Linked DNA regions of Homo sapiens: region 2 is linked to region 1. Evidence: fine-mapped expression QTL. A gene starts in region 1. The other region holds a variant in brackets. All regions are shown on one strand. Distances are from middle to middle.

Region 1 (4,523 bases):
ACAAAGGGTCATCTGTTTCTGCATGCTCCCAGCCGTCCTCCCAGAAGTCGGTACATGCCTGATACTAACAGCATCTGAACATCCAAGATCTGCCCCCTAGGGAGGCTCGCATCAATACCAAAGCTGGTTTTTGCAGGTAAAAGAGCCACAAGTTGGACACACTGTTAACAACTTGATAAGAAACCTGGGAGTCATCCAAAAATGCTATCAATGTCCATGTGTGACAACAGATCCCCTATTAAGTAACACAAGAGGGAACTTCAGAGAACAGAACATAAACTGCCTGTCCAGCTTTTACATGACACCCTTAGAAAAAGCAAGACGCGCATAAGCAATAATTACCAAGTTTTCAAATTTACTGCATAGACCATTGTATATCTGTAAACATCTCATAAATATTTGGGGGGGATATTGGAAGGGACACCTGAAAACTATAAATATTTTTACATATTGTTGGACCCTTTTTTATCTGAGCACCCCCAGCAGCAGTCAAACCAGATAGTGAGATAGTGTAAGAGCCTATCTCACTTTATCTCAGCATTCTTCCTACATTCACCCAACAAATGTTAAATTCTACTGTGCACTGAAAACTAGTTTATCATTTCTATCACATAATAATTTAATGAGGTTTTAGCCCATCTGCCAATTAGAAACTGTCCCCATCTGATCACACAGCAATCATTAGTTTTAACGTACATTCCAAAGGTAGAAAATAGAGTAGGAGAAGGGAAGAGTGTTTTGTTTTTCCAAATGCATCAAAATCCAACTGAAGTTCTCGTTCCTTCTTCCCAGTGAATAACACCAGTGTTCGGGCAGAAGGCGGGAGAGGGGGGCTTGCTTGCATCTGGGGGAGCTCATGGCCTTTTCTGATGGTGTGAATAAATACTCTGGATGAATTTAATCCCTGCTAAAGAAAAACATGCAAGAAAGGGCATTTCTTTCCATGTGTATCCCCTGGGCTGCCCAGAACAGAAGTCATCTTTGACACAGCACACCTGCCATGGATGACTCCAGATTGAGGCAGAAATTCAAAGAGGGCCTCCTGTTTGGCTCGGGAGGGCTTTTCCAGAAACGAAAACAAAAACAAACAAATAAATAAATGCATGGCAAATCCAAAAAGTTCATGTAACTTTAATACTTAGAATGTGGCAGAAAACATCCATGGGCAGAGAGGGGGAGAGAATTTGGCTCACTGATGGAGGGACCAGTGCAGGTGTGGGTGCCTAGGTGACAGCAGCTCACGGGAGGCTGCGGGGTGGCTCTGAGCTGGTGTTCTGGGCTCAGGTCTGAAAGAGAGATGTGACAGCTCCCTGCAGCTTGGGCCCTGGAAGTCAATGAGCGGTGGGTCCCTGGGCGCACGGAGGAGGCTCAGGCATCTCTGAAAGAACCTGCGCCACCACCCCTTCTTCTTTTCGGGATCGCTGTTCTCAGTGCCAGCCGCTCAAAGCCACCCTGGGCATTTCACGGCTACCCCTGGAGGGCCTCCGCCCCCAAAGCGGACATCGACCGGGCACAGAGCTCCAGGGTGTGTGTATCCCACCCCGGCCTGCAGCCCCTTGACTTCTCAAGCCTCCACAGCAACAGTTTCTCAGTAGGAGAAGCGCCGCAAACGCCCGCTGGGAAAACGCTCGCCAGGACCGCGGGCGCTAAAGCCAGGGACACGGAAGGAGTCTGGCCCTGGGCACAGCGGGGAGGAATCGGAGACGGGGCCAGGGGTAAAGACTTCCAACGTGGGCCTCAAAGATCACACAGAAGGAGAAACTTCCCGAGGGCACGGGCCAGGGTGCGCGTCCCTGTTTAGAGGTGCAGCCCTGGATCCCCCGGGCAGGTGGTGCGGGGCTGGCGACAGGCGCGGGCCCGGTGAGACCCGGGAGCAGGTCTCAGCCTCGGCGCGCGGTGGTCGCTCCGCGCCTAGGGTCCCAGGAAGGAGAGAGGAAGGGTCTCTCTTGGTCCCGTAGGACACGTTGCGGGCACTTGGCGGGGAAGGGACCTCGAACCCAGGCCCCAGTGGGAAGCGGCTGCGCAAACTAAGTTAGGGCACAGAGAGGCTTGGTCGGTTGTTCCCCCGCGTCAGTGCGCCCTGCCCGCGGTGCGCCACTACTTACACGAAGACTCCGAAGAGCAGGGCTCGCACCCCGATCTCAATGGCCAGCTCCCGCATGGTGCGGCCGGAGCAGCTCCCGCGGCGTCAGCTGGTGCTCTCCGCGGCTCCCGCAGCTCGGCCGGCGCCGGCTCGCCAGACCCTGGGAGGCGAGGGAGGCGCGCTCCAGGCCGCGGGCGGGGGCGGAGGCGGGCGCCGGGCGGGGGCAGGCGCCGGGGAGGGCTCAGCCTAAACCTCGCGCCTCGGGCTCCGGGGCTCCGGGAAGCCGCGCCGGCCGCTGGCGATACTGCGGACCCCGCCTCCTAGTGCGGAGCCGGGGCCGCCTCAGGGACTCCCGGATCCCTCTCCCCAGGAGCCGCCTCCGCCTCCTGGGCCCGCGCCGGGCACCCGCGGACCGGGGAGGGGAAGCCCGGGGAAGCCCCACCGCCGCCGCCGCCTCCCTGCGCGCTCCCCGCCTCCCCCGCCAGTGGGCGGCCCCTGGGCTCCGCGCCAGGGCAGCGCGCTCGCTGGGGCTCTGCCCGCGGCCCCTCTGCAGCTCCTGGTCCTGCCTCCGACTCCCGCTGTCCGGGCTCTCGCTCCCTGGCACACGCACGCACGTGGGCATGTAGTGGACGATCGCTCTGGGGATTCTCCAGGGCTCAGGGCAGCCCTGGCCAACCTTGCTCCCGTGTTCGGCCCTCCCTACACCGTTCGAACCTGAAATTCTTTCTTTTTTCTAGGAAGTTCCCCAGAGATCACTCGCGGGCTTCGCTTTGCTCTCAGGAGATGCCAGCCAGGGTCCAGGGCTCCGGCACAGAGAGAGGGCAAAGGCAAGCCTGGCTCCCCGCCATGCCACCAGCGCCAGGTGGCCCCTGGGGACCGAATCCTCTCTCCCCCACCACCTGTCCTCCGCCCCCAGCAGCTTGGGGCTGCTGAACTGTGGAATATGAAAAAGCTCCTGCCACCGTCCCTGGCCTGGCCGGTGTGTGGGAAGTCAGGGTCGCTCGTCGCTGACACAGCATTCAACCAGCCGTCAGCCAGGCAGCAGGTAGAACCCAGAGCCTCATCCTCAGGTTAAGAGCCAAAAGCCCAACCCTCGCAGCCTAGGGGTCACGACCTCCAGCTGGAGCCCAGCAGGAGCTTGGATTTGCTTTTCCCAAACCGGTCAGAATTTTATTTACTTTTCTTAGAATTTTGACTTCTTGGCTTCACTAATTTAAACCAAGCAGACATTTAAAATGCAAAACACACAGTGATTATAACCATTAGGTTGTTCCTGGGGAGCCCAGGCCTCTCTTGGATTTTAGGAGAGACCCAGCCAAAATTGTGTGAGCAGAGGACACGGATTAGAAGGTGGTTCCTGGGACTAAGGAGCTATGGCTCAGTCCTGGATAAAAGGGGGAGCAGGTAGAAAGAACTTAGGAGGAAGCCCTTGGCATCAGCAAAGGGCAAACAGACCCTACCTCCAAAGGAAACACGTGCAGATCAGAGATACCTGAGCCCAGATATCTCAGGGTCTAGAGAGAGAGAGGCAGAGGGAGTAGGAACAACCCAGGCTCTGTGTGGGAGGGACTCCAGCCCTGAGGCACCACAGGCAGGAGCTGTATCTGCATTCCTCATCACTCTATGCCCAGTGCCCGGCACACTGTGGATACCTGGTTGGTACTTAGTAAATGAATAAATATTTATTCATACATATATATATATATATATGGCTATATATATGATATATTCATTCATATATATTATATATGGCTATATATATGATATATATATACACGTATATATCATCAGGCACATGGGGTGTCAGGTGCAGGTAAGGTAGGAAGGTCTTGGAGGGAGGAGGTATGCTTCTGTCTCCTCTGTATCTTGGGCCCAGCAACTACCTTGGACATAACAACTCCCACGGATTGGCAAAGTGCTGTAGGAGAGCCCATAGGCAGCCTAGTGAACACTGATGATCTCGGTCTGAGATTGTCAGGTGGCCATATTCCAGCAGGGCATTCTGACAATAGCCCCTGACATTGGGGCACCACTTACCTATAAGCATCTGCTGAGTTTGAGTACAGCCTGTGCAAAGTTGTGTGCTGGGTGAGACGATTCATAATCTGTCTCTGCCTTCAAGAAGATGGGGAGCTGATAGACCACAAGGAGACATCAGGGAAGTATGCAAAGCAGTATTAATAAGTCACAAACACATGCTTCAGAAATCTGGATCGCTCAGAGGTCAGAAGTTGGAACCACATCATCAGTCTGAGATAGCCTGAGGACACAGCCTCACGGAAAGGAGCTGGCTTTTGGACCAGGCGCGATGGCTCATGTCTGTAATCCCAGCACTTTGGGAGCCCGAGGCAGGAGGATCATGAGGTCAAGAGATCGACACCATCCTGGCCAACAGGGTGAAACCCCATCTCTACTCAAGATACAAAAATTAGCTGGGCAT
Region 2 (4,000 bases), 120 kb before region 1:
GATTCAATTCTGAAACCCCCAATCATTCCCCGAATCCAAAGTGGTTGAATAAAAGTGAAAACCTGGCATTCATAGCTTACAAATAAATCATGTTCCAAAAAAAAAGTCTGTCTCCAAGTCAGTTGTTTGGGAAACACAATGCATCCTTCCTTAGAAAAAATGTACTAAGCAACAATGATACCACTTTGCATGTGTGTAGTAAATTTCCATTTACAAAGAACATTTGGATCCATTATTTCATTCAATCTATGAAAAGCTCTGTGAAATATTAGGGATAGTTCCTGTGCTCAAAGAGGAAACTGGCTCACAAGGGATCAATGAGAAGCAGTCCATAAAAGGCCATTTGGCCCGTAATATTCTTCATGGGGAAATGCCCTAACTCACATAGGTGGGAAACAATTCTGCGGGAACATATTCCCAGTTCCAATGGGGGGCTGTGCCTCTGTTTTTGTTGGCCCAGTGACTCTGTCCATCCTTCCATCTCATGATGCGGCTTCTTATCATCCAGAATTTCATCCAAGTCATTGATAAAAACAGAACAAGGGCAGGTTCAGACCTGTGACCCTCTTCTGACCTCCCCCATCAGGAGGGCCTCAGACCTTAGTAGCACTTGATGCTTGCTGCATCCACCTGTCCAAACCATGTCAGCATCTCTTTCCCTATACCCTTCATCCTCCAGCCCAAAGCTCCTGCTGGGGTCACAGGACACCCAGAGCATGAGCTCCAGGAGGATACGGGGTAGGGATGAGACCAGGAAGGAACAGGAGAAGCTGTGTAGTGCTAGAAGGAGCACAAGGTCTCCAGAGAAGATGAGGAAGGAGGGGCTCTCAGCTAGGAGTTCCCCTCAACCCTGTCCCCATCCATTGCCTCATTACCACTGCAACAAACCCCCGGAAAAGGTAGGAAGAGGGCAGTCCTGCAAGGCAGCTGGCTGCAAAGACAGAGAGAGGAAGGAGGTGAACAATGCCCAGCAACAGTCGGAAAACAAGAAAGGGAGAGGAGGTTTGGGTCACAGACCTATCATGGAAGCCCATTCATTCAAAGAAGCTGGATTCAGGCACACTTTCTTTCCTTTGTTTGGTTAAAATTGACACATATGGTGGAGCTCTTTACCAGTGTTTCTTAGACTTCATCAGCAATGACAGGCTTGCTTATTATCCAGGAAGATTCTAGGCCACTGCTCCAGATGCACCCCTAGAGAGTCCAATTTCTAGCTCAGGGCAGCTTGATCAAGGTGATCCAAGGATTGCCCTTGGGAAACCCTTCCCTAGACCCCATGCTTCCTGGAGGCCACACCTCCCATGGACATCACCTCCGTCTCAGCTCTCTGTGTGCTCTGGCAGGTGGTGGTTGTCTTTCAGACAGACTGTGAGCTGCAGTTTGTCTGCAGAAGGACATGGCATGGTTTAGTTATATTTCAGGAACAAGCCCCTCCCTTGTTTTGTGTTATTTTGATTTTTAACAAATACCCCAGGACTGATATATGTATATATATAGGCAAACCTCACCCCAGGCTTGCAGCTGCTGCTTGGAGCATTACTGGAATGAATCCCTGGCTAGATATACCTTTCGGAAGAGCATCCATGGTGACAAATACGTCCTTGTAGGCTGGATTTGATAAGCAAAGGAAGCCAAAAACCACTTGGCACCAACTCTGAGGACTGAGGCAAGTGATCCAGCAGGAAAATCACATTTGGGTCTCAGGCCAAGGGTGACACTAAACCAAAGGGCCTGACATTCTGGCAGGACTCAAGCAGTCTCCTGGAGCATGAAGGAGGAAGAAGAGCTCCAATTCTTTCCCCAGGAAGGCCAGACCTCACTTGAACCAGCATATTTGCTTCAAAATTTTATCCGCTCTGTCATTTCAGCCTCCTCTGGTTTTGGACAATGGGCACTTAGCTCCCCACAATTGGTGCATTTCTACACCCATCCCTGGAGGAGAGGGGCAACCACAGTGAGGACTAGTCAGGCCCTGGGCAGGGACTCACCTTGCCAGTGATGCTTGTAGTCGCACATGCGGGACAGGGCAATCATCATGGCGCAGTACAAGGGCAGGATGGCAGCACAGAGCCGCCAGCTCTTTCCCCGCCCACTCTCGGTGAAGCAGTGCAGCTTGCCCGCCAAGTAGAACGTCGTGAAGCCAAGGCCCGAAAAGGCAACTGCCAAACAGAAACAGCAGGTGTTACTCTAGCAGGTGGTGAGTGGCAGGGACTCAGTGCGTGCTGGGCATTCCGTCTGCC[G/A]TCTTGCACACCCCCAAGGCCAAGGCCATGTTGGCACCAGGCACTATCTAGGCAATCTGTGCTCCTGCTAGCACCATGCTGCTATGAAACTTTCAACCATAAGAATAATCTTCCAGGGTTATATGTGATCAAAACCTATTTTATTTCATCCATTCATTCAATAGTTACTTCAGGAGTCTCCACTCTGTGCTAGACAGGCACTGCACTAGATGTGGGGAATAAAAAGATGCATCAGATACTATCTCTGGAGTCAAGAGGCTCATGGTCTAGTTGAAGGACATACCATGCTAAGAGATAATTTTAATATAATGTGATACATTCTATAAGAAACAAGTACATACAGAGCAAAGGACTGTGAGAACTGCTTAGATCTGAAGGGCATGGGAAAGTAAAGGGGCTAGGATCAGCCCCAGGTTTTTGGCTTGGGAGACTGAGTGTACAATGGTGGCATTCAGTAAGATGGGACCAGCAAATGCTACAAAAGAGTGAGTTTGATGGAGAAGTCAGCGATGACAAATACCTTGTTTTCTGTCCGAAATAATGGTTATTGTTTTTTCTGAATTGCAAAGACAACTCATGGCTGTGCTAAATCCATTGTCGAAAGTGTAGAGGTCTGAGTGTAGCATGTATAAGCCCCAAGCTTTACATCCAAGCAGGTATAAAACATAGTTGGGAGCTCAGTGAGATTTAAGTTGGGAAGCGCTTACAACAATGGTCCTCAACCCTGGCTATACAGAGTCACCTCTAATACCTGGGAAGCTTTAAAAAATACTGATACCCAGGTTCCATTGCCAGCCATTCTGTTTGTAGTGGTCTGGAGGGAGCTGAGAGAGAGAGAGAGAGAGAGAGAGAGAGAGAGAGAGAGAGAGAGAGAGAGAGAGTGTGTGTGTGTGTGTGTGTGTGTGTGTGTGTGTGTGTGTACTCCCCAGATGATTCTAATGGTGGCCACAACTAAGCTTAGAGGCTTTTATTGAAGGCAGGTGTTACAGCTCCCCATCCCTCTGGACACCAGTCTAATCCAAACTTTCTTCTTGATTAGAAAGTACTTCTGAGGGGATGGAGCTCCTAGGTAACCAGCCCACACAGTGACTTGGCAAAACGAGTATTATAAATACTCTCAATGCCAATACACCAGCAACTTTAAGAGACTGCCCAAAGCCCTGAGCCACGGTCTGGGCATCATGCAGGCATTTGTGACAAATGCAGATCCTCAGGTCCAACCCACACCTGCTGAGTTAGAATCTGTATTTCACAACATCCACCAGCGATCTGTGCACACACTGCACTTGGAGAAGCCTTGGCCTAAAATACATTCATTGTCTTTATAAGAGACCTTGGAAAGTCCATCTTAAGAAAATAATATAAAATGTAAGGGAAATCTAGAAGATTTTCTGCTCAAAGTTATTGATAAATATTGAAAAACTGAAAATGATCAGTACAGAAGAATAGATAACCAAGCTGTGACATTTCCTTGTAATGGACTATGATGCAACCATGAAAACCACATGATTATGTAACAATATAGACAATACTTAGGATGCATGCTAAGTGAAACAAGTAGGACCCTAAACTGTAAGTTCAAGATAATCATTACTATAGTACCAAACAGTGAACAACCTGCAGCTTTTCCAAATTATCTCTGATAAGAATGTGCCTTCTTAAAAGCGATCTCGGTTACAAACACAAGATTATACCAAAGTAGAACTTTTTTCAGCAACCAAATTAAACAAAGTTACAGTGGTTTAAAAAAAAATTTTAAT

Which allele goes with the higher level. Positions count from the first base shown, and alleles are read on the strand shown. Sizes are in standard deviations (SD) of each study's normalised expression.
For the expression in cerebellum of the gene that starts at base 2,240 in region 1, G is the low allele of the variant in region 2 and A is the other (large effect, 1.3 SD a copy in GTEx).

Evidence for each region. PIP is the estimated chance that this variant, and not a neighbour inherited with it, causes the effect.
Region 2: its variant is fine-mapped to the expression of PLPP4 in cerebellum (GTEx, PIP above 0.99). The same link has a PIP of 0.9 or more in cerebellar hemisphere.

Annotation. Positions count from the first base shown.
Region 1 is chr10:120,454,944-120,459,466 of GRCh38, reverse strand. PLPP4 (phospholipid phosphatase 4) reads right to left here and starts at 2,240. Exons shown (of 7, transcript NM_001030059.3): 1 at 2,106-2,240. The coding sequence starts at 2,161.
Region 2 is chr10:120,573,290-120,577,289 of GRCh38, reverse strand. PLPP4 (phospholipid phosphatase 4) reads right to left here. Exons shown (of 7, transcript NM_001030059.3): 6 at 1,989-2,159. Among named protein-coding and RNA genes, the nearest start is that of LINC01561, 23 kb to the left of the region's middle. RefSeq lists an enhancer at 1,664-2,163. The variant G/A (reference allele first, on the strand shown) is at 2,241.